Homo sapiens: one gene and its partners. The protein of the gene in region 2 interacts with the protein of the main gene of each other region in a biochemical or structural test. Each region holds a gene or a part of one and is shown on either strand. Other genes may lie near its edges. The genes, in order: MAPK3, ELK1, MAPK1 and MAPK8.

Evidence for each region.
Region 1: of the proteins of ELK1 (region 2) and MAPK3, one has a biochemical effect on the other in vitro, tested with the Homo sapiens proteins (6 studies listed by BioGRID and IntAct, with this or other methods).
Region 3: of the proteins of ELK1 (region 2) and MAPK1, one has a biochemical effect on the other in vitro, tested with the Homo sapiens proteins (16 studies listed by BioGRID and IntAct, with this or other methods).
Region 4: of the proteins of ELK1 (region 2) and MAPK8, one has a biochemical effect on the other in vitro, tested with the Homo sapiens proteins (3 studies listed by BioGRID).

Annotation. Positions count from the first base shown.
Region 1 is NC_000016.10:30,120,203-30,127,076, forward strand, and holds the start of MAPK3 (mitogen-activated protein kinase 3), read right to left. Parts: upstream 3,019-6,874; 5' UTR 3,008-3,018; coding exon 2,838-3,007; intron 1,805-2,837; coding exon 1,622-1,804; intron 1-1,621.
Region 2 is NC_000023.11:47,647,559-47,654,988, forward strand, and holds the start of ELK1 (ETS domain-containing protein Elk-1), read right to left. Parts: upstream 3,006-7,430; 5' UTR 2,865-3,005; intron 2,469-2,864; 5' UTR 2,363-2,468; intron 1-2,362. Other genes in the region: protein UXT, read right to left, coding at 4,284-4,337, 4,523-4,586. UniProt on the Homo sapiens protein: Transcription factor that binds to purine-rich DNA sequences. Forms a ternary complex with SRF and the ETS and SRF motifs of the serum response element (SRE) on the promoter region of immediate early genes such as FOS and IER2.
Region 3 is NC_000022.11:21,787,627-21,794,651, forward strand, and holds part of MAPK1 (mitogen-activated protein kinase 1), read right to left. Parts: intron 1,183-7,025; coding exon 1,068-1,182; intron 763-1,067; coding exon 631-762; intron 1-630. UniProt on the Homo sapiens protein: Serine/threonine kinase which acts as an essential component of the MAP kinase signal transduction pathway. MAPK1/ERK2 and MAPK3/ERK1 are the 2 MAPKs which play an important role in the MAPK/ERK cascade.
Region 4 is NC_000010.11:48,421,667-48,428,691, reverse strand, and holds part of MAPK8 (mitogen-activated protein kinase 8), read right to left. Parts: intron 4,605-7,025; coding exon 4,533-4,604; intron 4,179-4,532; coding exon of another isoform or gene 4,107-4,178; intron 2,805-4,106; coding exon 2,622-2,804; intron 2,313-2,621; coding exon 2,188-2,312; intron 1,613-2,187; coding exon 1,549-1,612; intron 1-1,548. UniProt on the Homo sapiens protein: Serine/threonine-protein kinase involved in various processes such as cell proliferation, differentiation, migration, transformation and programmed cell death.

The DNA of each region.
Region 1 (6,874 bases), on a different chromosome or scaffold from region 2:
TCAGCCTTGAAAGGGTCTTCAGAGAATATGTGGACCAGCCCTGCTGTTTTAGGGCTGGGGAGGCCCAGCGAGACGCAGTGACTTGCTTCAGATCACACAGCGAGCTGGGGGTGAGCACGGAGATTTCCTGTCCACAGTTTGTGGTGGGGGTTGCAGACACCTCAGTACAAATCCCCACTCTTGGGTGGAGGGCTGGGACTGAGAGTGGGTGGGTGGGGCAGGGAAGAAGTGACAGGTGTCATAAGTTGCTAAGGAGAGCCAGACAGGAAGTGGACAGCAAACTAGGAAAGCAGTATTGGGGGAGGACAGCCAAGGCTAGGCTGTCCCTCCCTGGGCAAGGTGCAAGTCCACAGGTGATTAGGGTGTGGCTCTGAGTGAGAAGTCCTAAGAAGAAGGACAAGTTCCCATCTGGGGGAGGAGAGGAGGAGACAGCAACAGAAACACTTGATTTTAGGTTTTCTGAGCCTTAGCTTCCTCATCTTTTTTTTTTTTTTTTTTTTTGACAGGGTCACGCTCTGTCCCCCAGGCTAGAGTGCAGTAGCACAATCATAGCTCACTGCAGCCTCGAACTCCTAAGCTCAAGCCATCCTCCTGCCTCAGCCTCCCAAGTAGCTGGGACTATAGTCGTGTACCACCAAACCTGGATAATTTTTAAATTTTTTGTAGAGGTGGGGTCTCACTATGCTGCCCAGGCTGGTCTTGAACTCCTGGCCTCCAGTGATCCTCTGGTCTTAGCCTCCCAAAGTGTTGGGACTACAGATGTGAGCCATTGCACTCCACCCCTCATCTTTGAAATGAAGCTGAAAAGCCCATCTCATAGGGTAGTTGGGAGGTGTAATAGAAAAAAAAAAGCATTGGGCATGTATAGTACCTGACACACAGCAGGCCCTCAAGAAAGGCAGTTTTTTGTTTTTGTTTAGTTTTGAGACAGAGTCTCGCTCTGTCACCCAGGCTGGAGTGCAGTGGCACGATCTTGGCTCACTGCAACCTCCAGCTCCTGGGTTCAAGCGATTCTCCTACCTCTGCCTCCCAAGTAGCTGGGATTACAGGCTTGCACCACCATGCCCCGCTAATTTTTTTGTATTTTTAGTAGAGATGGGGTTTAACCATGTTGGCCAGGCTGGTCTCCAACTACTGACCTCAGGTAATCTCCCACCTCAGCCTCCCAAAGTGCTGGGATTACAGGCGTGAGCCACCACGCCCAGCTGACAGTTTTCTTTCTCCCTGTCTCCCTTCCGGTCTGGGCAAGGAGGAAAGAGAGGAAAGAATCATCCATTCCTTAGCAAGAAGTGACTGTGGGCAGAGGCCAGGTCATGTCTCAGAACTGCCGACGTCAGAAGACACCACTCCCATAGAGACCATCCTGCCTAGCCCTTCCCCCTGGGGCACAGAGCAGAGAACCCACTTGCTCGAGGCCATACTGCCTGGGCCGCTGCAGGCCTGGGTTCATCAGAGGTCTCCAAGTCCTGTTACACTGTGGCTTCCCCTCTGCAGGAAAGTTTATTTTACTGGGTTTGTTTTGGAGGGTGGTGGGTAAGATGGAAACAGAAACCAAGCAACGGGTCCCCAGCCCAGCTGCGAGGCCGTGCCTGACCAGCCGACTGGCCAAGGTGAAGGATACACATCTCTCATGGCTTCCAGGGTGGACGCCCGCAGAATGTCTCGGATGCCGATGACATTCTCATGGCGGAAGCGCAGCAGGATCTGGATCTCCCGGAGCGTGCGCTGGCAGTAGGTCTGATGTTCGAAGGGGCTGATCTTCTTGATGGCCACGCGAGTCTTGCGCACGTGGTCATAGGCCGAGCTGAGGGGACCGGAGAGAGGCTGCTGCTGTGGCCTTACAAAGGGGGAGTCCGGGCCTGGTGGCCCCACCCAGGCCTTGGCAGGGAGGGGAGAGAGCAGGAGCTGGCTCTGGTCAAATCATAAACAATGCTGGTTCCTTCCTGCTGTGGAGGCCTGGGATCTCCAGAGAGAAAGCTGGGGACCAGCCAGGCGGCCCTTCGGTGACTTTACAAACAGAGGAAGAGACTGACCGCTCACTGACTTCCCCTCTCCTCAATCCCCTTCCATTCTACTGGCCCTGAACCCTTCGCCCCCATTCCCAGGAAAGGCTCCTTAACCCAAGACAGGTCCGGGGGTGCAGATGCTGGGGACACACCATGGGGCAAATACTGGGAAGGTGGCAGCCAGGGGAGGGGCAGGAGAGAATGGACAGGGCAGGGGAGGGTCCCAGGGTGAGGGATCCGGGCAGCGGGGCTGTCCCAGAGGGATAGAGGCCCAGAGCACACGGTGGGGCCGGGGGCACTCACAGACCCCTCCCAAAACATGCAGGTGGCACTCCTGGCCGCCTCATCTCTCTCTGGGCCCCTGGGGTGGTGGGGCCAAAGCCCTGCCCCACCCTGATCTCGGCTCTTCTCCCCCAGGCTCCCTGGCACTGCCTCACAGGGGGAATCCAAGACACCCTTTCCCCCAAAACGGGCCCTCCACTGCCTCTTCACTAAGGATGTCGCCTCCCCGAGAGTACTCATCCTCTGGGCCTCGCCCCGTGTCACTAGGGTCCCCGCGGGCCCCCACATGCACTCGGATGCCCCTCCCATCATTACAGAAGGGTGGACTCAAAGCCTCCAAGCCTGCTCCCCTGAGGACGTAGGCAGCGCCCCCTCCCCCAGAAAGCACTCAGGGGCCCCCTCCCTGGGACGCTCCCGATCATCCCGAGTCTCCTGCCTCCTCGGGACGCTCCGCGTCTCCACGTCCCGGAAAGCGCTCGGCGCCTCCTCCTCCTCTCCCGCGAAGCCCCCTCCCCTGAGGGCACCCCCTCCCCCGGAACGCCCCCTCACCTGACCATGCCGTACGCGCCCTCGCCGATGTACTGCAACTGCGTGTAGCGCGGGCCCACGTCGAACGGCTGCCCCTTCACCATCTCCACCTCCCCCGGGACCCCCGGGCCGACCCCCTCGGTTCTACGGGGCTCCCCGCCCCCGCCCCCCTGAGCCGCCGCCGCCGCCATCTCCACTCCTCCCCTCCCACCGCCCTCCTCCCCACGGCGGCCCCGCCCGAGGCCCCGCCCCTTCCCGCCTGCCTGTCACCCGCAGGGCCGCGCGCGCCAGGCCCCGCCCTTGCCCCGGCCCCGCGTGGGCCTGGAGCTGTCACGTGACCCGCCCCGCGCGCGCCCGCCCTTCTTGCCCCAGGTTCGGGGGCCATGGGTCCCTGCGGGCTCCGCGGCCTCCAGGTCACCGGGAGGTTCGGCAGCGCCGCCTCGGAGACTGTCCTCACCCTCCCCTCGATGGCGAAGCGGCCAGGGCGTGACCTACCAGAGCCACCCAGCCAATGTATGCGGCAGCCCACCAGAACCTGGGCCCGGGATCACCCTAGGTTAAAAATAATGTTCTAATAAATGGATCAAATTTTACAGATGGAGAATCTGAGAGTTAGGTTTACTAACTTGGGTAAGGTCACTAGTAGTGACAGCTGAGACTCAAAATGGTGTCTTCTGACACAGAGACTCTTTCTAATTCCATGCCTCTCAGAGTCCTAGACTGTTTTTATTTTATTATAGAGACAGGGTCTCTCTCTGTCGTCCAGGCTGGAGTGTAGTGGTGCAATAATTGCTCACTGCAGCCTCAACCTCCCTGGGGTCAAGTGATCCTCCCACCTCAGCCTCCCAAAGAGCTGGGACTACGAGTGCGCGCCACCACGCCCTGCTAATTAAAAAAAAAAATTGGGGGGCTGGGCACGGTGGCTCACGCCTGTAATCCCAGCACTTTGGGAGGCCGAGGTGGGCAGATCACCTGAGTTTGAGACCAGCCTGACCAACATGGTGAAACCCCGTCTCTACTAAAAATACAAAAATTAGCTGGGCATGGTGGCACGTGCCTGTAATCCAAGCTACTTGGGAGACTGAGGCAGGAGAATCGCTTGAACCCGAGAGGAGGAGGTTGCAGTGAGCTGAGATTGCACCACTTCACTCCAGCCTGGGCGACAGAGCAACACTCCGTCTCAAAAACAAAAAACAAAAAGAAGAAGAGAAAAAGTAGGGTTGCAGAAGGTAGGGACTGAAGAAAGGCATGAAGGAGAAGGATCGGGGTGAGCTGAGGCATAAAGGCAGAAGCATAACTTGTCCAGCATGGCTGCAGTAAAAAAATGATGAGGTTTCAGCCTGGAGAGGTAGGTTGGGGCCAGATTAGGAAGGCTCTGGATTCTGGCAAGGAGTTTGGATGTTACTCAGTAAGCAGTAAAAACCCTAGAGGGACTTTTGCCAGATCATTTTGCAACTGCGGGAGAATATAGTGACTCAGAGAAAACACTATGGAGTTCAGCATGGAGCCAGGTTTGCTGAGTGGGAGTGAGTTTCCCAGCATAGGAAAGGCTGGTGTATCAGAGCTGCAAGCTGCCACCTCCTGCTGCTGGAAGCTCAGTTAGAGTGTGACTGAGATTCCCCTCTAGTGACTGAGGTTGGCATTTCCTTGGAGGACTGGACTGGGATTTGTTCTGGTTCATAGACGCATATTCAACTAATGTAGACTTACCATCTCTTCTGTGCCAGGCACTTTTGGTTTTTTTTTGTTTGTTTGTTTGTTTGTTTTTTTGAGACGGAGTCTTGCTCTATCACCCAGGCAGGAGTGCAAGCTCACTGCAACCCCTACCTCCTGGGTTCAAGTCATTCTCCCACCTCAGCCTCCCAAGTAGCTAGGATTACAGGCGCCAGCCACCACGCCCGGCTAATTTTTGTATTTTTAGTAGAGACGAGGTTTCACCATGTTGGCCAGGCTGGTCTCAAACTCTTGACCTCAGGTGATCCACCCACATTGGCCTCCCAGAGTGCTGAGATTACGGCACCTGGCTTGCCAGGCACTTTTATGTACACTACCTCCTGTAATCCTCACAGCAGCCATATGAAGTAGATACTATTAACATTTAACTGGAAAATGATGCTGGCTGGTCGTGGTGGCTCACCTCTGTGATTCCAGCACTTTGGGAGGCTGAGGCAGGCTGATTGCTTGACCCCAGCAGCTGGAGACCAGCCTGGGCAACATAGTGAGATCCCATCTCTACCAAAAATACAAAAATGAGCTGGGTGTGGTGGCATGCGTCCGTAATCCCAGCTACTTGGGAGGCTGAGGCAGGAGGATCAGTTGAGCCCAGGATGTTGAGGTTGCAGTGAGCTCTGATGGTGCCACTGCACTCCAGCCTGGGTGACAGAGTGAGAGACCCTGCCCCCACCCCCACCCCCCCAAAAAAAGGGACAGAGGGAAAACGATGTGGAAGCTTACGCTCTGTCACCCAGGCTGGAGTGCAGTGGCGCGATCTCAGCTCACTGCAAGCTCCGCCTCCCAGGTTCACGCCATTCTCCTGCCTCAGCCTCCTGAGTAGCTGGGACTGCAGACACCCGCCACCATGCCTGGCTAATTTTTTGTATTTTTAGTAGAGACGGGGTTTCACCGTGTTAGCCAGGATGGTCTCCATCTCCTGACCTCATGATCCACCTGCCTCGGCCTCCCAAAGTGCTAGGAGTACAGGCGTGAGCCACTGTGCCCGGCAGAATTATTTTTCTAGCACAGGGTCTTGCTCTGTTGCCCAGGCTGGAGTGGAGTGTAGTGGCAAGATCATAGGTCACTGCAGGCTCGAACTCTTAGGCTCAACAGATCCTGCCACCATGCCTAGCACACACAACCACGCCTAGCTAATTTTTTTTTTTTGTTTTTGAAACGGAGTCTTGCTCTGTTGCCCAGGCTGGAGTGCAATGGTGCAATCTCAGTTCACTGCAACCTCTGCCTCCCGGGTCTCCTGCCTCAGCCTCCTGAGTAGGTGGAACTACATGCGTGTGCCACCATGCCTGGCTAATTTTTTGTATTTTTATTAGAGAGGGGGTTTCACCGTGTTAGCCAGGATGGTCTCTATCTCCCGACCTCGTGATCCGCCCGTGTCGGCCTCCCAAAGTGCTGAGATTACAGGTGTGAGCCACTGCGCCCAGCATTTTTTTTTTTTTTTTTGAGATGGAGTCTCCCTCTGTGCCCAGGCTGGAATGCAATGGCACAATCTCGGCTCACCTTGACCTCTACTTCCCAGGTCAAGCGATTCTCCTGCCTCAGCCTTACAAGTAGCTGGGATTACCGGCACACGTCACCACGCCTGGCTAATTTTTATATATTTAGTAAAGATGGGGTTTCACCATGTTGGCCACGCAGGTTTCAAACTCCTGACCTCAAGTGATCTGCCCACTTTGGCCTCCCAAAGTGCTGGGATTACAGGTGTGAGCCACCGTGCCTGGCTTGGCTAATTTTTAGAATGTTTGTAGAGAAGGGTTCTAGCTAATGTTGCCCAGTCTGGTCTCAAATTTCTAGGCTCAAGTGATCCTCTCACCTCGGCCTTTCGGAGTGCTAGGATTACAGTCATGAGCCACTTCGGCTGGCTCCAGATTAAATCTTAAACCAGTTATTAGCTTTTTGTGATTTTCAAGGTCTGGCACTTCTTTTTTTCTTTCTTTCTTTCTTTTTTTTTTTTTTTGAGGCAGTGTCATGCTGTGTCGCCCAGGCTGGACTGCAGTGGTGCGGTCATGGCTCACTGCAACCTCTGCCTCTCAGGCTCAAATGATCCTCTCACCTCAACCTTCTGAGTAGCTGGGACCACAAGCATGTGTCACCATGCCCAGCTAATTTTAGTATTTTTGGTAGAGATGGGGTTTCACCGTGTTGCCCAGGCTGGTCTCAAATGATCCGCCCACCTTGGCCTCCCAAAGTGCTGGGATTACAGGCATGAGCCACCATGCCTGGCCTGAAATAGTTATTTATTCTTCTTATTATTAGTAGTAGTATTCTGGTCTTTCATGACCGTAGACTTTTGAAGATTATAGGTCAGTTATTTTGTAGAATGTCCC
Region 2 (7,430 bases):
CACAAGGGGCTCAGTAAAGGTTGGTTGCAGGAACAGTCCCAACTAATTAGCTCTCATATCCCTTCTTCTTCCTCATGTGACCCCTACACTGGTGTCTCAAATTATCTTTTTCCCATTTATTCATGGGATAAATTCTTATTGAGCATCTGCTGTTTACCTGGTACATTTTCAGTTGCTGGAGACATAGCGGTGAATGAGCAGACAAAAACTGAGTCCTCATGGGACTCACATTCTAATGAGGAGAGACAGACAACAAACAAGTAACCCACACAGTGTGTCAGACAGTGATAAAGGGCAACGGGACAAATCAGGGACCTGGCTTGAGCCCTGCTGGGTGTGCAGCTTCAGATGGTCAGGGAGGGGTTGACTTTTTTTGTTTTTACAAGTAGCATTGTTAGGAACTTCTTTTTTATACATGTGCCTTTGTATAGTATATTCTAAGTACCATGGTGTGACAATCAACCTTTAATGAAATAACACTACCCAGGTACAACAAAATCAAATCACTCTTAGAAACATCTTTTACGCCTGTGCCTTTAAGAGAGTGTATTACACACACCACAGTGGTTGTTTTTTGGGTTTTTTTTTTTCAGAAAAAGGGATCTCGCTATATTGCCCAGGCTGGCCTGGAACTCCTGGGCTCAAGCTATCCTCCCACCTCAGCCTCCCGAGTAGCTGGGACTATAAGTGCACACCCCTGTGCCCAGCTACACACCACAGTTTTGTGAACACATTCTTTCAATGCAACAACACAGTCCTTATTCACATATACAACTAGCACTCTTAGAAACAGCTTTTATACCTATGCCTTTACAGAGCATATTACGTACCTCAGTCTTGTGAACACATCCTTTTGAAAAGGAGGAAAACCCTTACTCATATATAAACTGGCATTCTTAGAAACATCTTTCATACATGTATCTTTTTATACTGCATTCCACACACCACAGTGTGGTAAACATCCTTTGGGGGTTGGTATTTGAACAGAGTGCTGAAAGGAACCATGCAGAGATCTGGGGGTGGTGTTCAAGGCACAAAGAACAGCCAATGCAAAGGCCCTGAGGCTGGCCCATGCCTGCTATGTTTGAGGAGCTGTGTGGTGGAACCAGTGTGGTTGGAGCACAGTAAGGGGGTGGGAAGGTATAGGCGGTAATGCTAGAAAGGTTACTTGTTTTACCATTAATTCACAGTTAATATTTATTTACACTGGAAGGGATTCTAGTTCTGATCCCCCATTTCACAAATGAAGAAAAAGGCACAGAGAGGAAGTGGTTAAATCACTCATCTAAGGTCACACAGCTGCTGGGATTGGGGGGTGGGTGGGTGCTGAGAGAAGGTGAGGAATGAAGACTGCTCTGCAGGCAGAGGGAACAGCAAGAACAAAAGCTTGGAGGTGAGAACTAATTTGGTTTTTAAGGACTGAGGCCTCACGTGGGGTGGGATGAGATCTAAGAGGGGAGCCTCAAAAATTATCCTGTGTCCTGAGTACTTCCTGGGCCACCTTTGAGTAAGGAATTTAACCTCCCTATGGCCCAATTCCCTCACTACCTATCTCATGGGGTTGTGGTGAGGATTAAAGGAACTCATTCATATGAAACACTCTGCCTGATATACGGCAGGTGCTCAATAAACGCTAGCTCCTATTGGCATTACTATCATCACTGGCGCTAATGTATTCACTTATTGTAGTGAGGCAGAACGTCTTTGTGGTTACGAGTGTGACCAGGCTGACCCACTATTAAGAGGTGGAGGACAGGGAAGGCCGTACAGTGCTCCATCACAAGGAAAAGAGGATCAGCACGTTCTCTTCTGGGAAGGGAAAAAAAAAGAGAAGGAAATTGAAAGTACACGGCCGATCTTCCCCCAATTACAAAGCACTGGACTCACGGGAGGGTATGCGGGGGACTGTGCAAGCATACAGGGGTGTGGGGGAGGAAGGCCAATGAACAGATCCACTGCAAAGGGAGGGGTGATGAGGCTCATCGTCTGAGGGGAAGGGGAGCAGAAAACCTTACAGACTCCTGCACCACAGTGAGAGGAGAGAAAAGCCATCACACAGACTGATTCAAAGCAGAGAGGGAAAAGGCTATGGACTGAGCTACTGAAAATAGGGAGATGTAAAGCACTAAACTAACCCACTATTAAAAAGGAGAGAACCCCAAGCGCTAGAGCGACAGTCTACGAAAAAGAGGAGACAGGGCAATGGACTGATAGCTAAAGGGACGTGAATCCAAACATGAAGACTGATCCACTATAAAATGGTGGTGGTGGTGGTGGGGGGGGGGGGTGGTTTTGAAAAAAGCCATGGACTGATGCATTGGGGGACTGGAGGAGGCAGGAATACAAACTCAGGTAGACTCACTGTTAAAGAGGGATGCGGAGGAGTGCGGCGCCACGGATTGATTCGCTACGATGTACAGGAAGGGTGGAATAAATAAGGCCACGGACGGGTCTCCTGAAAGTTGAGGCTAGGAGAAATCCAAACACTCAGATACACCTACTATTAAGGGGGCTGAACACTGTCACAGGCTAGCTCCCTATAAGTGGGGGTGGGTGGGGGGCGGGTGGGGGTAGGGGTAGGGGGAAAGCCTATGGACGAGTCCACCCTAAGTTGGCGTGGGGAAAAACATAAGCACGCAGACCGATCCATTATACAACGGGAGGGGGAGGTTAGGCCACGGTCAGATCCACTATAAGGGACGAAGGGCTTGAGCAATGCCACACGCAGGTCCACCAGCCGTGGTGGTGGCGGCGGGGAGTCGAACACCAGCAGGCCACCGGCCAAGCCACATCCTCTGCGCGGGGGCGGGAAGGATACGTGGGGTCACGGACTGGGCCCTCCACCCTCCAGGCCCAGAGCTCACCTGTGTGTAGCGTGGCGGTGGCGTTGGCAATGTTGGCAGCTCCGGGGGGCGGGGGCTCCATACGCGGCCCCACCGCCCCCCAGGCCTGGGTTCCGAGGCGGCGGTGGAGGTGGTGGTGGCGGTGGCGGCGGCAGCACCTAGAAGCCGCCCCTGCGTTTCCCTACAGCTCACGTGGGCCCGAGGAGGAGGAGCCCAATGTCCCGCCGCTCGCTGATTGGCCAAAGCGCTATTAATCGGCCGCAAGGCCTCGAGGGGTTGGGGGACGGGCCCTTCCCTACAGAGCTGTGCCGTGATTGGCGTAAGGGGAAATGATGGAACGCTCACGGCCCCTGGAGTCCCGAGGAGGCGCGTTCGGCCTTCACGGTGCTCCACGCCGATTGGCTCAAGGACTGACGGACTGTGAGCAACTGAAAAGGCTCGGGGCCTGTGTCGGGGGGGCGGGGGTCTGCCTCACACTGATTGGCTTACATGGGATTGATGGAAGACAGCCCCCAAGGACGGGGGTGGGTGGCCCTGTTTTTCTCTGATTGGCGGACGAGGGACTTCTAGACCCCTGCCAAAACACCAAGGGGGCGGTGTCGCACGCCATGCTGCTCAGCGGAAGCAGGGCTTGTATAGAAATGGGCGTAGCAGCCGGCGGGAGTGGGTCGGACTGGGCTCCGCGTAGGCGGGCAGGGCAGCTCTACGGTTAGACAAGACCATAGAGCTGGGTAAAGACGAATTTAGAACACAGCGGAGGTAGGAGGGCAGGATGGCTGTCAGGCACACGAAAGAGCATTGAGTGGCAGAAACGAAATGCTTTCAGAGGGCAGGGTTGAACTGCGGCCAGAGTTAAAAAGGGGAGGAACCTGGCTCTGCATTGATTGGCGGTGGCTGGACTCAACCTAGAATAGGGGCCCGACTAGGGAGAGCGGGATCCAGGTCTGTGCCCATTGGAAGCTGGAACACTTACAAGCAGGGGCTAAGACAAGGTAGGGCTGAGTTAGGGTTTGGGTGTAATTTGGGGTACCTGGGGAATGATTGGGTGTGTGAAAGCGTAAACCTTAGGGCCCTTTGATTGTTGTGGGAATGAACAAACCTCCACCATGAATTGGCCCATTCTCTATGGCAATTCAAAGGGTGGCGTCTAGGAAAAGGAATGGAAGAAAGGGTGAGGTGGGGGGCCCAGGTTGCCAAGATGACAGAAGAGAGGGCAGTGCATAAGGTCAACTGGCAAATACTGCCAGGCAACAGGCTGGAGGCAGGACTGCTGGGGCATTTTGGAGGTTCCACAGAGAGACTGGATCTCTGGGTCTCTCAGTAACTTTGTGCCCTAGGAACAGGCCCCCGTGGCAACTAGCAGGGTTTATGGGGAAAAAGAAGGGCCATGTGACTCAAAGGCATTCAGGCTCTTTAATGTCTGAGGATGGGGGGAAGAAGTCAATGGTGAGGCTTCTCTGGGAAATTCTGCAGGCCTTGTAGTTCTCTAAGCCCCTGAAAAAGAGGACAGAAGAGATTGAACAAAGACTGGGTCTGGGTTACGCCCCCAGGCTTGCTCTGACCTCCCTCCCTTGACTCCAGTTTAGAGGGAAAGATGGTCCTTCCCTTCTTTCGCTCTCTTCCTTCTTCAGGTCACCACCCTAAACACAGAGTCTGGTAGTGGGGTGAGCTGCTCTCACCTCTAGCAACATGTGGATATGGGCTTTGATATTCATGGAGTCCTTGGTGAGGCTGTTGCTGAGCCTAGAGAAAAGAAACAAGAAAGGGCAAAATGGGCCCCACATGATTATGATGACCCTTCCTTATCACTTCAAGATCTACTTATATCCTGGATGATTTCCACCTGGCTCATTCCTATGTGGAAATGCCAAGCCACCATCTGGTTTTCACTGATTCAAAGATTATTAAATGCCTACTGTATGCCAGGCAATTTTAGGCACTGGGAGATAGCAGCAAACACAACAAACAAAACTCCCGGCCTGATGGACTTCAAATTCTTGTAAAGAAAGACATAACAAAAAACCAATGGAATAAAAGCTATGTGTCAGATGGTTCTAACTACAATAACAAAAATTAAAAATGAGAGACAATAAGGAGTACAGGAGTGGGGGGCTGCAATTTTAAAGAGGGCTCAGGGATGGCTTCACGGAGAAGCATTTGAGTAAAGACTTAAAGACAGTGAATTTTGAGTAGTGTGGCTATATGGAGGATGTGTTCCACACACAAGGGGCAGCAAACACAAAGGCACTGAGGTGGGAGTGTGCCTGGCATGTTTGAGGTGCAGCAAAGAGGCCACTCTGGCTGGAGAAGAATAAGTGAAGGGGGAATGTAAGAGGTGAGGTCAGAGAGGTAATGAGGGAGACAAACTGTGTGAAGCCTACAAGGCCATGGTAAGGACCCTGGCTTTGACCTTAAGTGAGATGGGAGCCAAGGGAAGGTTGCAGCAGAGGAAGGAGGTTGAATTACATGAACCAGTCAGTTGACTCCTTTTCTCTAAGCCAGTTTGGATCAGATCTCGCCCAAAAGAATCCTAATTGATATAAAGGGTCAAGGAAGGCCTTTCTCAAGAATGAAGAATGAGAAGGAATCGAAGAATGCCTAATGGTTAAGCAGTAGGAAGGCCTTTTCCACAAAAAGGACAAGAGGCAACAAAGAGCTGTTTGAGAAGCAGTGAGGTCAGAGTGTTAGAAATTGAGTGGGGAGGGAAAGTGGCCTAAGACAAGGTCCAAGAGATAGGAAGAGGTTAGATCACACAGGGTCTTAATATAATAAGGAATGTGGATTTTATTGTGCTGTCAATGTAGGAGTCAGTTTGAGGGGTAAATGAAACTAAATACTGTTGGAAAAGCAGAGAGCAATAAGATAGGATGTTAAATTGGAAAAAAAAGTAGTATGAACCCATGTATATACCAATATCTCCCACATTTTTATTTCTAGCCCAGAACTCTCTCCTGAACTTGACTAGTTTTAATGACATCTTCTAAAAATCCACTTCAGTGTTTAATAAGTGCCTCATACTTAACAGGTTCCAGACTAAATTCCTGACCTTCCCCTCCAAATCTACTCCTCCCCTAACTTCTCCATCTCAGATAATGGCAACTCCATCCCTCCAGTTGCTCAGCCAAAAACCTGGGCTCCTCTCTCTCACACTTCACATCCAGTCAGCCATTCTTCTTAAAATCATGACTGTTCCATTGCAGGTAATGCTTCTGATCTCCATGATATGCTTTCTCCATAGCACTGTCAACATCTGACATACTACATCATTCATTTGTTTATTGTTTGTCTCCCCTGACTAGAATGTCAGCTGTATGAGGGCAGATTTTGTTTTTTTTTGTTTCCTGCTCTATCCCCAGGGACCAGAACAGTGTGTGGCACAGAGGAGGCACCCAACGTATGTTGAATGAATAAGTGACTACTCCATTAAAAGGAACCTGAGGTTGGCTGAGTGTATGTTTAGGGACAGGAAATAAATGAAGTATGGGTGTTGTTGCCAGAGAGCAAGAATACTTTCAAGAATATTCTGGGGGTAATGCTTAAAGAACAGAAGAATGAACCTGATCAGCTCCTAAGGGACAATTTTAACATCAAAAAAGAGAACAAAATTAGTTAATGGTGTAAGCTTACCTTATGAAAACCTATGAGTTCAACACTTTAAAAGGGAGAAAAATACAGAGTTCACCAAATGCTAGCTGTAACACAAAAGGGATATGTTTATTACTGCTGATTTATTTTTATTTGCTATGTGAGAAGCAAATTACTACTGATTTAGTATGTAAGGCAGTGTGAATAGTCATATGGTTATGCTTTTTTTTTTTTTTTTGAGATGGAGTCTCACTGTGTCGCCCAGGCTGGAGTGCAGTGGCGTGATCTCGGCTCACTGCAACCTCCACCCTCCGAGTTCAAGCGATTCTCCTGCCTCAGCCTCCTAAGTAGCTGGGATTACAGGCGCCTGCCACCGTTCCCGGCTAATTTTTTGTATTTTTAGTAGAGACGGGGTTTCACTATCTTGGACAGGCTGGTCTTGAACTCCTGACCTCGTGATCCACCCACCTCGGCCTCCCAAAGTGCTGGGATTACAGGTGTGAGCCACCGCGCCCGGCCGTTAGGCTGTTTCTTCTATAATTACATGTCTATTCATGAGATGTGGATGTGTACTCCTTTCTGTGTCATCAGGAAAGAATATAGAGATTTCATCCCTTCCACTTCCCAAACAAAGAAATATACTAAGAACAGGAAGAACTGACACTTTTGATCACATAAAATGACCAGAAAGTTAGTTCAAAGTATATCCCAAGTAACCAAATATTTTTAAAGGACAGCCAGCTACATAGACTCAAATCTTCATCTCTTAGAAAAATTAAACTTCTAGACAGTCCTACTAATTACAATAAAGCAGTAAGACTCAACCATATTTTTCATCACACTAACAGACCAGGTCAGTACATCAAAAAGACCAGGCAAGGGGGCAGGCACTGACAATTTAAATACTTCATTTTGGGGAAGTACGTGGAGTCTCAAAACATTAAAATCTATTTGATAGGCTCAGGAATCCTGTGACATAACAAGGAAAGCCTTCTTATACAA
Region 3 (7,025 bases), on a different chromosome or scaffold from region 2:
AAAATTATCAAGTGACAAGATGAAAAGGTGTAATTTGTTTGCAGGGTCCTAGACTTCCTGAGACCTAAAAATGTGACCTTAGGCTGAACGCTGTGGCTCACGCCTGTAATCCCAGTTTTGGGAGGCCAAGGTGGGCAGATCAAAAGGTCAGGAGTTCGAGACCAGCCTGGCCAGCATGGTGAAACCCTGTCTCTACTAAAAATACAAAAATGAGCCAGGCGTGGTGGTACGCGTCTGTAGTCCCAGTTACTTGGGAGGCTGAGGCAGAAGAATCGCTTGAACCCGGGAGGAGGAGGTTGCAGTGAGCCGAGATCGGGCCACTACACTCCAGCCTGGGCGACAGAGTGAGACACTGTCTCAAACAAAAACAAAAAAAAAGTGACCTTAATGCAAATTAAAATTAGCAAAGAAACCAAAAGGTGGAGAACTAGACCGTCATTACCAGGTTCCCTTACTGCACTGCCACTGTTTCCAAAAAAAAAAAGGGGGAAGACAACAATTCAGAGTGAGCACTAAAGAAAGCATTATCCAATAGCCATAGGCTCATTTTTCAGGCTAGTGACCTAACAATTTAACAAATAAACGCGAAGCTAAGCCTAAGAAAAAACTAATCAACGAAATAACATTTACCTTTGGAGTCAGCATTTGGGAACAGCCTGTTCCATGGCACCTTATTTTTGTGTGGAAGAGAAAGCAAATAGTTCCTAGCTTTTAAATTTATTATACAATTCAGGTCTTCTTGTGATGGGGATCCAAGAATACCTATCAGATAAAAAAATTAGCTATTAGTTATCAGGACCAAGGTAAATGACTACACACCATCAACTCTGAGTCGGAATGAACCCTGATAATTGATATGAGCCGTTGCTTATCACCACTCCTGATGTTTACCTTTCTTATGTTTTTACACAAAAGTCCTTAACATTTTAAATCAGAGAAGGTTAAAAATTCACACCTACCACAGGTTAAAGAGTATATTAGAACTCTTCTTAATTTAATGAAGTGACTTTGATGTAAGCTGTACAAACTTGAGTAAATCTAGCTCCTGAAGGGCTCGGGAACCTTACCCAAAATGTGGTTCAGCTGGTCAAGATAATGCTTCCCTGGAAAGATGGGCCTGTTAGAAAGCATTTCTGCCAGAATGCAGCCTACAGACCAAATATCAATGGACTTGGTGTAGCCCTGCAGGAGAAAGAGAGAAAAGACTGAAAATGGTATCTGGTGTTACAGGACATGATGAGATCTTCCTGTATGACAGGTGCATTGCTGATGGGACTCTGAACTTCTCCTTTGACTCTACAATTCAGAAATACAAGTAAACAACATGGAAAAGCAAAAAACAATTTGGCTTTCTTATGAGAGGCTGAACAACCAAGATTATGTGATTTTATTTTTCTCTTCATAGTTGATTAACTTGGGCTGGGCACAGTGGCTAATGCCTGTAATCCCAGCACTTTGGGAGGCCGAGGCGGGCGGATCACTTGAGGCCAGGAGTTTGAGACTAGCCTGGCCAACATGGTGAAACCCCATCTCTACTAAAAATACAAAAAAATTAGCCGGGCATGGTAGTGGGTGCCCGTAATCCCAGCTACGTGGGAGGCTGAGGCAGGAGAATTGCTTGAACCCAGGAGGCAGAGGTTGCAGTGAGCCAAGATCGTGCCACTGCACTCCAGCCTGGGTGACAGAGCGAGACTCTGTCTCAAAACAACAACAAACCCACAAAGTTGATTAACTTATTAAATTAGAATTTCCAAAGTATACATCCGTCCTTTTTTGAAACAATTTGAGAGACAGATTTAGAATTGTCATAAATTGGAGCTGGAAAAAGAAAAAAGGTCTAAAAACCTTTTCTGGGTTTGGGGGAGTGTGTGCTAGCTCCATCATATTTTACCAATCTCTTCTAAAATATTCTCAGCTGGGCATGGTGGCTCACGTCTGTAATCCCAGCACTTTGGGATGCCGAGACGGGCGAATCACCTGATGTCAGAAGTTCAAGATCAGCCTGGCCAACATAGTGAAACCCTGTCTCTACTAAAACTACAAAAATTAGCCGGGCGTGGTGGTGGGCACCCATAGTTCCAGCTACTTGGGAGGCAGAGGCAGGAGAATTGCTTGAACCTAGGAGGCAGAGGTTGCAGTGAGCCGAGATTGCACCACTGCACTCCAGCCTGGGCAACACAGGGAGACTCCATCTCCAAAAATAACATAACATAACATATAACATAACATAACATAACATAACATAACATAACATAACATAACATAAACATAACATAAAACATAACATAACATATAACATAACATAACAAATAAAATAAAATAAAAGAATTCTCATCTTCTTTTCCTATTCATTTTTCAGGAATATGTTTTCTTTTAAAGGAATCCTGTTAGAAGTCATGGGAGGATACTTTGGGAGGCTGAGGTGGGAGTACTGCTTGAGGCCAGGAGTTTGAGGCTGCAGTGAACTATGACTGCAGTTGCACTGTTACACTCCTAATAGCAGCATGTGAAAGAAAATGCATTTCCTCATGTCCTCAACAACACTGGGTATTAACTAATTATTATTATTATTATCATTATTATTATTATTTTGCCACACATGGTGGCTCACACCTGCAGTCCCAGCTACTCGGGAGGCTGAGGTGGGAGGATCACTTAAGCCCAGGGATTGGAGGCTGCAGTGAGCTGTGACCGAGCCAATGCATTCCAGCCTGGGTGACAGAGTGAGACCCTTTCTCTAAAAATTAAAAAAAAAAAAAAAAAATCATGGAAGGATTCTGTCTGAATCATAACAATGGTGCAAAAAAGATGTTTCTCCAAGGAATATAAGCTGACTCTTTTAAAATTAAGAGATGGTGTCATCACTCTGTCACTCAGGCTGAAGTGCAATGGTGTAATCATGCCTCACTGCAAATTCAACTTCCTTGTCTCAGGTGATCCTCTCACCTCAGCCAGGTCCTGAGTAGCTGGCACTACTGAGTAGCTGGCACACAGTAGGTGGGCCACAGGCATACACCACCACACCTGGTTGATTTTTAAATTTTTTGTAGAGAAGGGGTCCCACTATTTGCCCAGGCTGGTTTCAAACTCCTGGGCTCAAATGATCCTCCTGCCTCAGCCTCCCAAAGAGCTGGGATTACGGCATGAGGCACCATACCTGGCTCCAGAAGTGCCTTCTAATACAATGAAGTGCTTTTCTGGTATTCATGTTAAAAATGCATGACCCAAAACTGAGGGGCATTCTACAAAATAGCTCATCTGCACTCTTAAAGGAGACTAAAGAAACACAACAACCTGTCTCTATGAAAAGCACAAAAATAAATAAGTAAATCAGCCATGAGCAGTAGCACGTGCCTGTAGTCTCAGATACTTGGGAGGCTAAGGTGGGAGGATGGCCTTGAGCCCAGGAGGCGGAGGTTGCAGTGAGCCGAGATGGTGCCACGGTACCCCAGCCTGGGTGACAGAATGAGAACCCGTCCTTTTTTTTTGAGACGGAGTCTTGCTTTGTCACCCAGGCTGGAGTGCAATGGCACGATCTCAGCTCATGCAACCTCCACCTCCTGGGTTCAAGCGATTCTCCTGCCTCAGCCTCCTGAGTAGCTGGGATCACAGGTGCCTGCCACTATGTCCAGCTAAATTTTTTGTATTTTTAGCAGAGACAGGGTTTTGCCATGTTGGCCAGGCTGATCTCGAACTCCTGACCCCATGTGATTCACCCACCTTGGCCTCCCAGAGTGCTGGGATTACAGGTGTGAGCCACTGTGGCTGGCCTGCGAACCTGGTCTTAAAACAAGCAAGCAAACAAGCAAACAAACAAAACTCATGACAGTACAACATGTGAACCTGTGCCCAGGTCGGGGGGTGGTTTGGGTGGGGTATAGTTCAAAGGTTATTGGGATAATATCTAAAATGTGAATATAAACTGTGCATTAGATACTGAATCAGTATTAAGTTTCTTGATTTTGAAAACTGTACTGTGGTCATGTTAGAGAATACTCTTAAGGCAGGGTTTTTCAACCTCGGTATGACTAACATTTTGGGCTGAGAAAGTTTCTGTTTGGAGGGCTGTTCTGTATATCGTAGGATTTTTAGCAGCATCTCTGGCCTCTTGATGCAGGGAGTACCCCTACCCCTCACTGTGACAACCCTGCCACATGTCCCCAGGGAACAACAGGACCATGGTTTGAAGTAAAGACATACTGAAACAAGGTGAAGGGGTGTATCTACAATTTACTCTCAAATGACTCAGAGTGCGTGGGAGTGCCCACACACATGCACACAAAGAATGATAAAGCAAATGGGGCAAAAGATAAAAAATCGGTGAGCCTGAATCTGGGGTAAAGGGTATTTAGGAGTTCTATCTGGCGGTTCTACAAGAGTGTTCCAGAGACTCCTATGGGTTCCCTCTAGAGGATCTGAGAGGTCACAGTACATTTATTATACTACTATGACATTTTCATCCTTTTCAGTCACGAGTGAAAAGAAGATTTTTCCAGATGCAATATGATGAGTGATGATGTGTACATGAAAATGTGACACTTGGAATATCTGTGTAACTCAGTGAACCAGTATTTTCCAAATACGCTAAAAAATCATGCATGAGTATGAGTGCAAGGTAGACTAATGGATTTTAACGAAATAGTATCAAGAATTCACTGATATGATTTCAGATTCCACACTGCAATTAACCTTTAAGAAACCACCACTTGTTTAAACTGGGGGTAGGATCAAAGAATAGCCACAAGTGGCTGAAAAGACTACTAAAATTTCCCTCCTTTTTCCAGCTACATACCTGTGTGAAGAGTTTTCCTCTGGCCATACCACCCTGAACACGCCCGATCTTGTCTGATCTCGGAAGCTAAGCAGGGTTGGCCTGGTTAGTGCTTGGATGGGAGGAATAGATCTTGAATTTCATAAATAGCACTCAGACATCTATTTTTAGGCTTATTTGTAAATGTCTTGATAAAATGTCTGATTACTGTTACATACTAGGGAAAAATCTCACTTTTTTGTGTGTTATGCTTTTAAGCATAGATTTTGTTTGCTAAAATGTTATTTAGAATTTTGCATGTATTTTTCACTGGCTTGCGATTTTTCTTTTTATATAACATCTTTTTTAAAGGGTCTTTATTAATATTGCACTCAAGTTTTCTTCTGTTTTCTATGCTCTGAATTCAAGCAGTTAAAATCCATGGGAAAGAGTTTTCCTTGACATTTTTGAAGAACTATGCATGTAATATTATATTGATTATTAAATTGATTAAAGCCTGAAAAAAAAAAAAAAAAGAGTTTTCCTCATGAACTTAAACCAAAACAACATATTTGACAGACTGAATGCAGAACCAGATGAGAATCCAACTGTCTTCTATTAAGCCAGACATTAAAGAGACTTGCAAAAATGAAAACAATGCCACTCTTCTCACTAAAAGGTTGTTTTTCGTTTTGCTTTTTTTAAAGACAGGGTCTCACCCTGTTGCCCAGGCTGGAGTGCAGTGGCGTGATCACGGTACACCGCAGCCTCAATTTCCTGGGCTCAAGAAAATCTCCCATCTCAGCCTCTTGAGTGGCTGGAACTATAGGTGCACACCACCATGCCCAGCTGATTTTAAAATTTTTTGTACAGATGGCAGGGCACAGCAGCTCACACCTGTAATCCCAGCACTTTGGAAGGCCGAGGCAGGTGGACCACAAGGTCAGGAGGTTGAGCCCATCCTGGCTAACATGGTTAAAACCCTGTCTCTACTAAAAATACAAAAAAATTAGCCAGGCGTGGTGGCGGACGCCTGTAGTCCCAGCTACTCGGGAGGCTGAGGCAGGAGAATGGCGTGAACCTGGGAGGCGGACCTTGCAGTGAGCTGAGATCACACCACTGCACTCCAGCCTGGGTGACAGAGCACGACTCCGTCTCAAAAAATAAATAAATAAATAAATAAATTTCTTTTTTGTACAGAGTCTCACTATGTCACCAGGGCTGGTTCCAAACTCCTGGTGATCCTCCTGCATTGGCCTTCCAAAGTGTTGGGATTATAGGTGAGAGCCATCATGCCTGGCCTCACTAAAACGTTTTTATTGTAGAAAATAAACTTATTCTTAAGAAAAACATGTAATTTATCTTAACATGTAGTGGGTTTACTATTTAAAAATTAATTAATACATTTTAAAGTTTCATATTGTAGGCCGGGTGTGGTGGCTCATGCCTGTAACCCCAGCACTTTGGGAAGCCGAGGCGGGTGGATCACCTGAAGTCAGAAGTTCAAGAGCAGCCTGGCCAACATGGTGAAACCCCATCTGTACTAAAAAATACAAAAATTAGCCGGGCATGGTGGTACACACTTGTAGTCTCAGCTACACGGGAGGCGAGGCCGGAGAATCATTTGAACCCGGGAGGCAGAGGTCGCAGTGAGCCAAGATTGAGCCATTGCACTCAAGCCTGGGGGACAAGCGCCAGACTTCTCTCCAAAAATTAAAAAAAAAAAAGTTTCATATTGTAAATAACAATAGATATAACCTACGTAACTAAAAAAAGGTGTGTGGGTCCTTGACTTTTTTTTTTTTTTTGAGACAGAGTCTCACTCTGTCACCCAGGCTGGAGTACTGTGGCAAGATCTCGGCTCACTGCAACCTCCACCTCCCAGGTTCAAGCGATTCTCCTGCCTCAGCCTCCAAGTAGCTGGGATTACAGGTGTGTGCCACCATGCCCAGTGCATTTTTTGTATTTTTAGTAGAGACAGGGTTTCTCCATGTTGGCCAGGCTGGTCTCGAACTCCTGGGCTCAACTGATCCACCCGCCTCGGCCTCCCAAAGTGCTAGGATTATAAGTGTGAGCCACCATGCCCAGCTGGTCCTTGATAATTTTTAACAAATGTAAAGGGATCTTGGCTGGGCGCAGTGGGTCATGCCTGCAATCCTAGCAATTTGGGAGGCTGAGGTGGGTGGATCAGTTGAGCCCAGGAGTTTGAGACCAGCCTGGCCAACATGGCAAAACCCTGTCCCTACAAAAACATACAAAAATTAGCCGGGCATGG
Region 4 (7,025 bases), on a different chromosome or scaffold from region 2:
TCAAATGCACATTACATATTCAAATGCAGCAGACTCTATCCAATTTTATCATTTTGTCATTCTTCTAACTTTATCACGGGCTCTGCTAACCATGGGTTTCCCAAAGTTCAGAGAAAACCAATCTCTAAATCTCTTCAATTTCTAAGAAAGAATCAAATTCATGCTTAGCAAAATACATTTATAGATGGGTCACTTATTCATGTTTATACCTCCCCAGTCCCCTTTCCTTTCCCAGGATTTAGAGACAACTCTTAATAACAGGTCTTCTGCCTCTATTTTAAGATGAGGTAAAATGCAGGGGGCAGTGTAGGAGGGTGAGATGAAGGGGGAGTGATTTACTCAAAGTCACGCAGTTACAAAAGTGGTCAAAACACTGAAGGACAATAACACAAATGGAAGTAAACGGGACCTAAAAATTACCTGACCCACATGTCCCAGGGCACCTTTTGAAGAAATATTTGAAAACTTCCATGACTATCAAAGCATGATTAATTTCAGCCACATTCATAAAATAGAATAAAACTACATTAGATTTACAAATATTAAAAATTAACCCATTCTGTAGGCAAGGGTGAGGGCAAAGAGAGACTCCTATATAACATGGACGGAAGTGTACACTACTACCATTTCTTTGGAGAGTAATTTGGAAATAACTGAAAAATATCTTTGGCTCAGAACATCTCCTTCCAGGATTTTTCTTCCAGGCATGTTCTCATATGTGAACATGAATATTGCAGAGTTGTTTCTAACAGCAACAGACTGGACACAATTTAAATGGTCACCAAGAGGGAGATGGATATATAAAGTGTGACATATTCATACAGCAGAACACTAACCAGTTATTAAAGCAAGAGAGGCAGATACGTGAACTAAAAGAGAATAACCTTCCAGATATCTGATTATATCAACAAAGCACTCACGCCTATAATCCCAGCACTTTGGGAGGCCGAGGCGGGTGGATCACGAGGTCAGGAGATCGAGACCATCCTGGCTAACATGGTGAAACCCTGTCTCTACTAAAAATACAAAAAAATTAGCCGGGTGTGATGGCAGGCGCCTGTAGTCCCAGCTACTCAGGAGGCTGAGGCAGGAGAATGGCGTGAACCCGGGAGGCAGAGCTTGCAGTGAGCCGAGATCACACCACTGCACTCCAGCCTGGGTGACAGAGCGAGACTCCAACTCAAAAAAATATATAATAAATAAACAAAGCAAGTACATATAGCATACACCGTACACAACCATACGTGATTTTAAAAGGGTGGAAGAGGAGAGGTGGGAGACACTAAACACATTTGTGTATTCACAAACCATGGAAAAAAATATGAGACAGAGCACTAATGTGTCTGTGTCTGGGGTGGGAAACTTGGGAACTTAAGATTAAGTTAAGGAAGGAAGCAGACTTACTTTCTACTTATGTAAAAATATTAATATTACCACATTTCGGTTATGCATATTAAAGTCACAAATTTCTCTAACATGATAATAAATCACCATATAAAAACCAGAAGCTCCTTCACAGTTTTCCCTCTAAGAATCTGACGAATGTACCTTTCCACTCTTCTATTGTGTGTTCCCTTTCATCTAACTGCTTGTCAGGGATCTTTGGTGGTGGCTGAAAAACACAAGGCAATAATAACCAAGTCAGTATGCTGGGAGTATTTTAACTCTGTAGTTATTTGAAATATTAGCCACACAGATGACTTATAAAAATATATCATTAGATCAAGACTGATCAATCATCAACTTACTTATACAGACATAATAGTTTAGGAAGACTCCTTCATTGCAGGAAATAAAATGTTTAACTGTCTTTTTTCTTTTCTTCTAGCTCTTGAAATTGCCACATTTTATTTATATCACAGATCACAGAATTCTGTTTTCCTTTGGATACAGTAATTTGTTTTATACCTGAGTTAGGATGTTCCCCCAGAGCATTCAACATCCTAGTTCTCTGGTTAGGTATCCAGGCAAGATTGCAAAAAACAGTGGGAGGTAACTTTATTTTGTGTAGGAGGGGCTCGAATATGTTCATTAGTTTATTTGACGTAGTCTTCATGAAGAAACAGAAAAACATCATCATCATGTATCTACATTTTTATTTAAAATTAAAAGGTCTCCTCCAAACCTAACTGTCATTCTAACTCTAAGAATGCAATATGTTCTGTAAACATTAAGAAAATAACTTACAGCTTCTGCTTCAGAAGGATCATACCAGACATTGATGTACGGGTGTTGGAGAGCTTCATCTACAGAGATCCTTTTAGATGCATCTATTACCAGCATTTTGGATAACAAATCCCTTGCCTGACTGGCTGCAAACATAATGGTGTTAATGTACATATATTTGTAAAGATTCTCAAATTATTAATAACTTTCAGCAATTTGAGATTTTTTAAAAAGCATATGTTTTAAAAATATTACTGTAAAATTATCTTATACATATGATTAAAATATATAAGATTAAAGAAAAAAAAAACAAAAACCTCATTTTTTTCCCCACCATCCAGAGAAAACCTTGGGTTCATGTCCCATAAGAATATGAATACATATAAACACACAAACCCATACACACACACTACACACCCCAAATGGGATTAAATGTACATATTTGTAAAAAGTACCTTTAAGTTTGTTGTGTTCTGAGTCAGCTGGGAAAAGGACATCAGGGAAGAGTTTCTCAAAGCTATATCCAGCATATTTAGGTCTGTTTTCAACGTAAGTCCTTACTGTTGGTTGCAGTTTCTTCATGAATTCAGGACATGGTGTTCCAAGCTGTTCAATAACTTTATTCCACTGATCAATATCTAATATCAAGTAGCTAAGAAAAATACTCCATAACTAATGTTCAATACATTAGTCATATTCATATTACAAGAAAATAGAAATTTAAAAATTCCTAAGAAAGGATGTGGCAGTTATAAATTTTATATCTCACAGGCACCCTGCAAAAGGCAATGATTGTAGGTGGACAGAAATGATCAATAAATAAGCTTTATTAACCTTATTTATTGTGTGTTCAAACTAACTGATTTTACCTTAAAATGGAAGCTTAAACTCACAAATTCTAAATAAAATGATAAGCAACTAAGAATAATGACAATTACTATCCATAGTGGCTCTAACTGCAAACTGCACACAATGCTATAATAATATACAAAATTTTTCCTTTTCTGTCAATTTATCAGAAAACATGATTATATCTCCTAGACAATATTTCTAGAACACATCCTGTTTTACTGAGTTTTCTACACTAACAGAAAATAATCAGTTGTAATAAAAATAAAGGCTTCGATAAAAGTGGCATTTTCTTTTGCCATTCTTTGTTTAGCTTAGGTTTAAAAAAATTTTCTAAAGCTCTGACCCTTATAAAAAAGATTCAGTTTTTTGCTAAGTTGTAAGGTTAGGATTTCTTGGTCTCCTTTCCTCTAGTCTTTACACTCCAGGACCCTGAAGGCCAAGGCCTAAAACTCACTTATTGTAACCTTGTGAATATGCCTTTTCCCATTCTTCCTCCTGAAACAATTCTAAGTGTTACTAGCTGGTAAACACATAACAAATCACTGTTAATATAAATATTAAAAGTAGTGGGATGAACAAAAAGTATGAATCCAAAGCTATCGTTACCATACAAAACTACTACTGCTGAAATTCTCAGATGAAAGGGTCAGTATGTTATGTGAGTAATGAGACAACAATCAAAAGACACAAACCACACAGAACATTAACAAAAAGGAGGTAGGGGACAAAACAAAAGGATGGCCAGAAGCAACAGACAGCTCCAAAATTCATATTAAGTTGTACGTATTTCTAGACTTAAGTGTATAATTATTATAAATTTTTAATGCAAGCCATGATTTTTGATTTAGGTTAAATCAACTCAAAGCCAGCAAGTAATTGTGCATAATTACAATTGAGCAGGGTTCAGAATTAACATATGAAACAATAAATAACGGAAGGAAAAGTCTATGTCAAATAGTAGGTGGTATTTTAAGAGTAATTTAACAATATATTAGGGAGAGACAAAATACATTATACCTGACCAAACTGAAGTGCTATCATACATTTTGACCTTTAGAAACTACATTTTAGGCCAAAGATAAGGATACGATCTGTACCTGGGAACAAAACACCACCTTTGATCATTTCTCCCATGATGCACCCAACTGACCAAATGTCAACTGAAAACAAAATGCAATGACATTAACATAAAGATTTTGGTTAAAATAAAAAAAAAAAGAAAGAAATAAAATCACACACACCATGTATACTTTAAAATTATAAAAAGCAGTATAAAATAAAAATGAGTGACAGTGAATGTGCTCTGACTACCAGCAGAGACTGTATGTCCTACTGCCAGATGCAGCCTACAAATATTTCAGCTTCTTATCTCAACAATTTTTGAACTATAATAGCCACAAACTTTATGCCTGTTTAAAAACCCATCTGTGTAAATGTAGCATATTCATTTTCATTAGAGAACATAAAGAAGTTCATCGCCTAACTAATTAACTGCTGCAGCAGCACAAGGATACAGTCCCTTCCTGGAAAGAGGATTTTGTGGCAAACCATTTCTCCCATAATGCACCCCACAGACCATAAATCCACTATATGTTTGCAGCACAAAAGAAGGAAAAGCAAAGCAAAAGGTCATTAAAATCAAAGAAGCATAATATGACTGCATTATATAAAAACTGCAAAACGTCACGAAAAGAAAAAAAGTGATTGTAACTTTAGCTAACGGAATAATTTAAAACACAAATTATTTTTTGAAAGTCTGGTTCACAAAAGAAAATGTAAAGTGTGGCATTTTAACTACATATCTAATTTCAAAGTGAGAGCTATGCACAGAAATTGCATAAATAGAAAAACCCTGCATGTTTGTCCCTGAGAACTTGTTTATAAAATATGAAATAGAACCAAACACAAACTTTGTAAATAAAAATGTACATGAGGTAGTAAAATTATAAAAATAAAATTGTTATACTATACTATTTAGAAGTTCAACTGTGCATTATACTCTCTAAGAAAAAAGCATGAGAAAATAATTCAGCATATTAAAATATCTAACAGAAATAATCTCTATGAATAATTATGATAAAAAAGTTAATCTAAAGCTCTTTGGAATTTTTAAACTGGATTTCCCAAATACATTTAACTGAGAAGTGCTATGCTTGTTCTGAATTAAAAGTCCATTTGTTTTCTTGGCAACATCATGCTACATTTACCCTACTATCCCAAAAGGAACAAGTGCACAGAGAATGAACAACTAATCAAGGAAAACTTAGTAAGAGAAATGTATTTCATGTTTCCTACCTAAAGTTTTTTAAACCCATAAAACCAAACTGCTTTTGGCTTAAGAAGTTAGTTTTGGCTAGATACAGTAAGTCAGTTCCCACGAATTGAGTATGAAGAGTCTCCTGGAAGACTTACTGATGACCCTTGCCAACTGTAAATGGGAATCCCAATCAATGTTGACAAGAATCTGCTAGACACAGAAACAGACAATTTGGAATCTCCACTTACTAAGGGAAACTGACAACACATCGTGGCATTTTATGCCTTTGGGTTTGAACATCACACAAAAAGGAGAGAGTAAGTGCTTGCAGTGTAACAGGAAAAGAGGGAAGAATGAGCAATTTAGAAGGAAAAGCCTTAGAAACTTGCATTTAGTTGTGACATCTGAAGGTCCCAATTCTTTAAAATGACAAGTGGAAAACGGCACAAATAGATGTCAGAAAGACACGTGCCCTTTACTCATGTTAAAGGACTTAGAAAATTAAAGCCTGTACTTTCTAATACAGTACATTCTTATTAAAAGGCTGCCAGTTCACTGAAGAGTCTTAAGAGCTAAACTGGAAATTACTTTTGGAAATACTGTGGAACTAAAGTTTCCCTAAAATGTCATATTAAAATGAATGAATATTTTCATATTTATGTCATGGTTCAGCTTTCAAGGATAAGATTTTAGAAAAAAAATTTAATATTTATAAATTAGTGCCTCAGAGAAAAATTTTTTCTAAGGTTTCCGTTTTTGACAAAAATCTATTAGAATAAATCTTCTCTACAGATTTTATAGAGAATGTTAAACTTTAAATATCCAGCTTACAACTTATTTGGTAACTTTCAGAAAAGCTCATTTTTAAACAAAAGTATTTTGAAAGCTGCAAGCATGAGAGAAGATATTATCTGGGCCAGTGAAGACTAGGAACATAAGTCTGATTCATGCACAACTCTAGCTGTAAACTAACTGCTTAGTCTATTAAGCAGTTAAAAATATATTGATTACACTGCTTTCCAAAATGCTCTGAGTAGCCTGCAATAAAAGGTACATAAAGCAAAGTTGTTAAAATGGGTGGGAGGCCAGGCGTTGTGGCTCAAACTCCTGTAATCCCAGCACTTTGGGAGGCTGAGGCAGGTGGATCACCTAAGGTCAGGAGTTCAAGACCAGCCTGGCCAACATAATGAGACCCTGTCTCTACTAAAAATACAAAAATTAGCCAGGCATGGTGGCACATGCCTATAGTCCCAGCTACTCGTAGGCTGAAGCAGGAGAATGGCTTGAAGCCAGGAGGTGGAGGCTGCAGTGAGCCAAGATGGCATGACTGTACTCCAGCCTGGGCAACAGAGTGAGACTCCATCTCAAAAATAAATAAATAAATAAATAAATAAATAAATAAATAAATAAGATAAATAAAATGAGTGTGAGGTGTCATTAAAAGGAGGAAGTACTTATGTTTAACCTTGCTGGCTAATGTAGTTATAATCATTAAGCATTACATTTGACTCCGTTTCCTAGGGTGGGAGTGGGAAGGCAAGAAGGTGATCTACATAATTCTTAACTAAAGAGGAACCATATGTCAGTTCATTTTTTATTCTATTTTATTTTTTGAGACAGAGTCTTGCTTTGTCGCCCAGGCTGGAATGCAGTGGTGCAATCTCGGCTCACTGTAACCTCCACCTCCCGGGTTCAAGCGATTCTCATGCCTCACCTCCAGAATAGCTGGGATTACAGGTGTGCACCACCA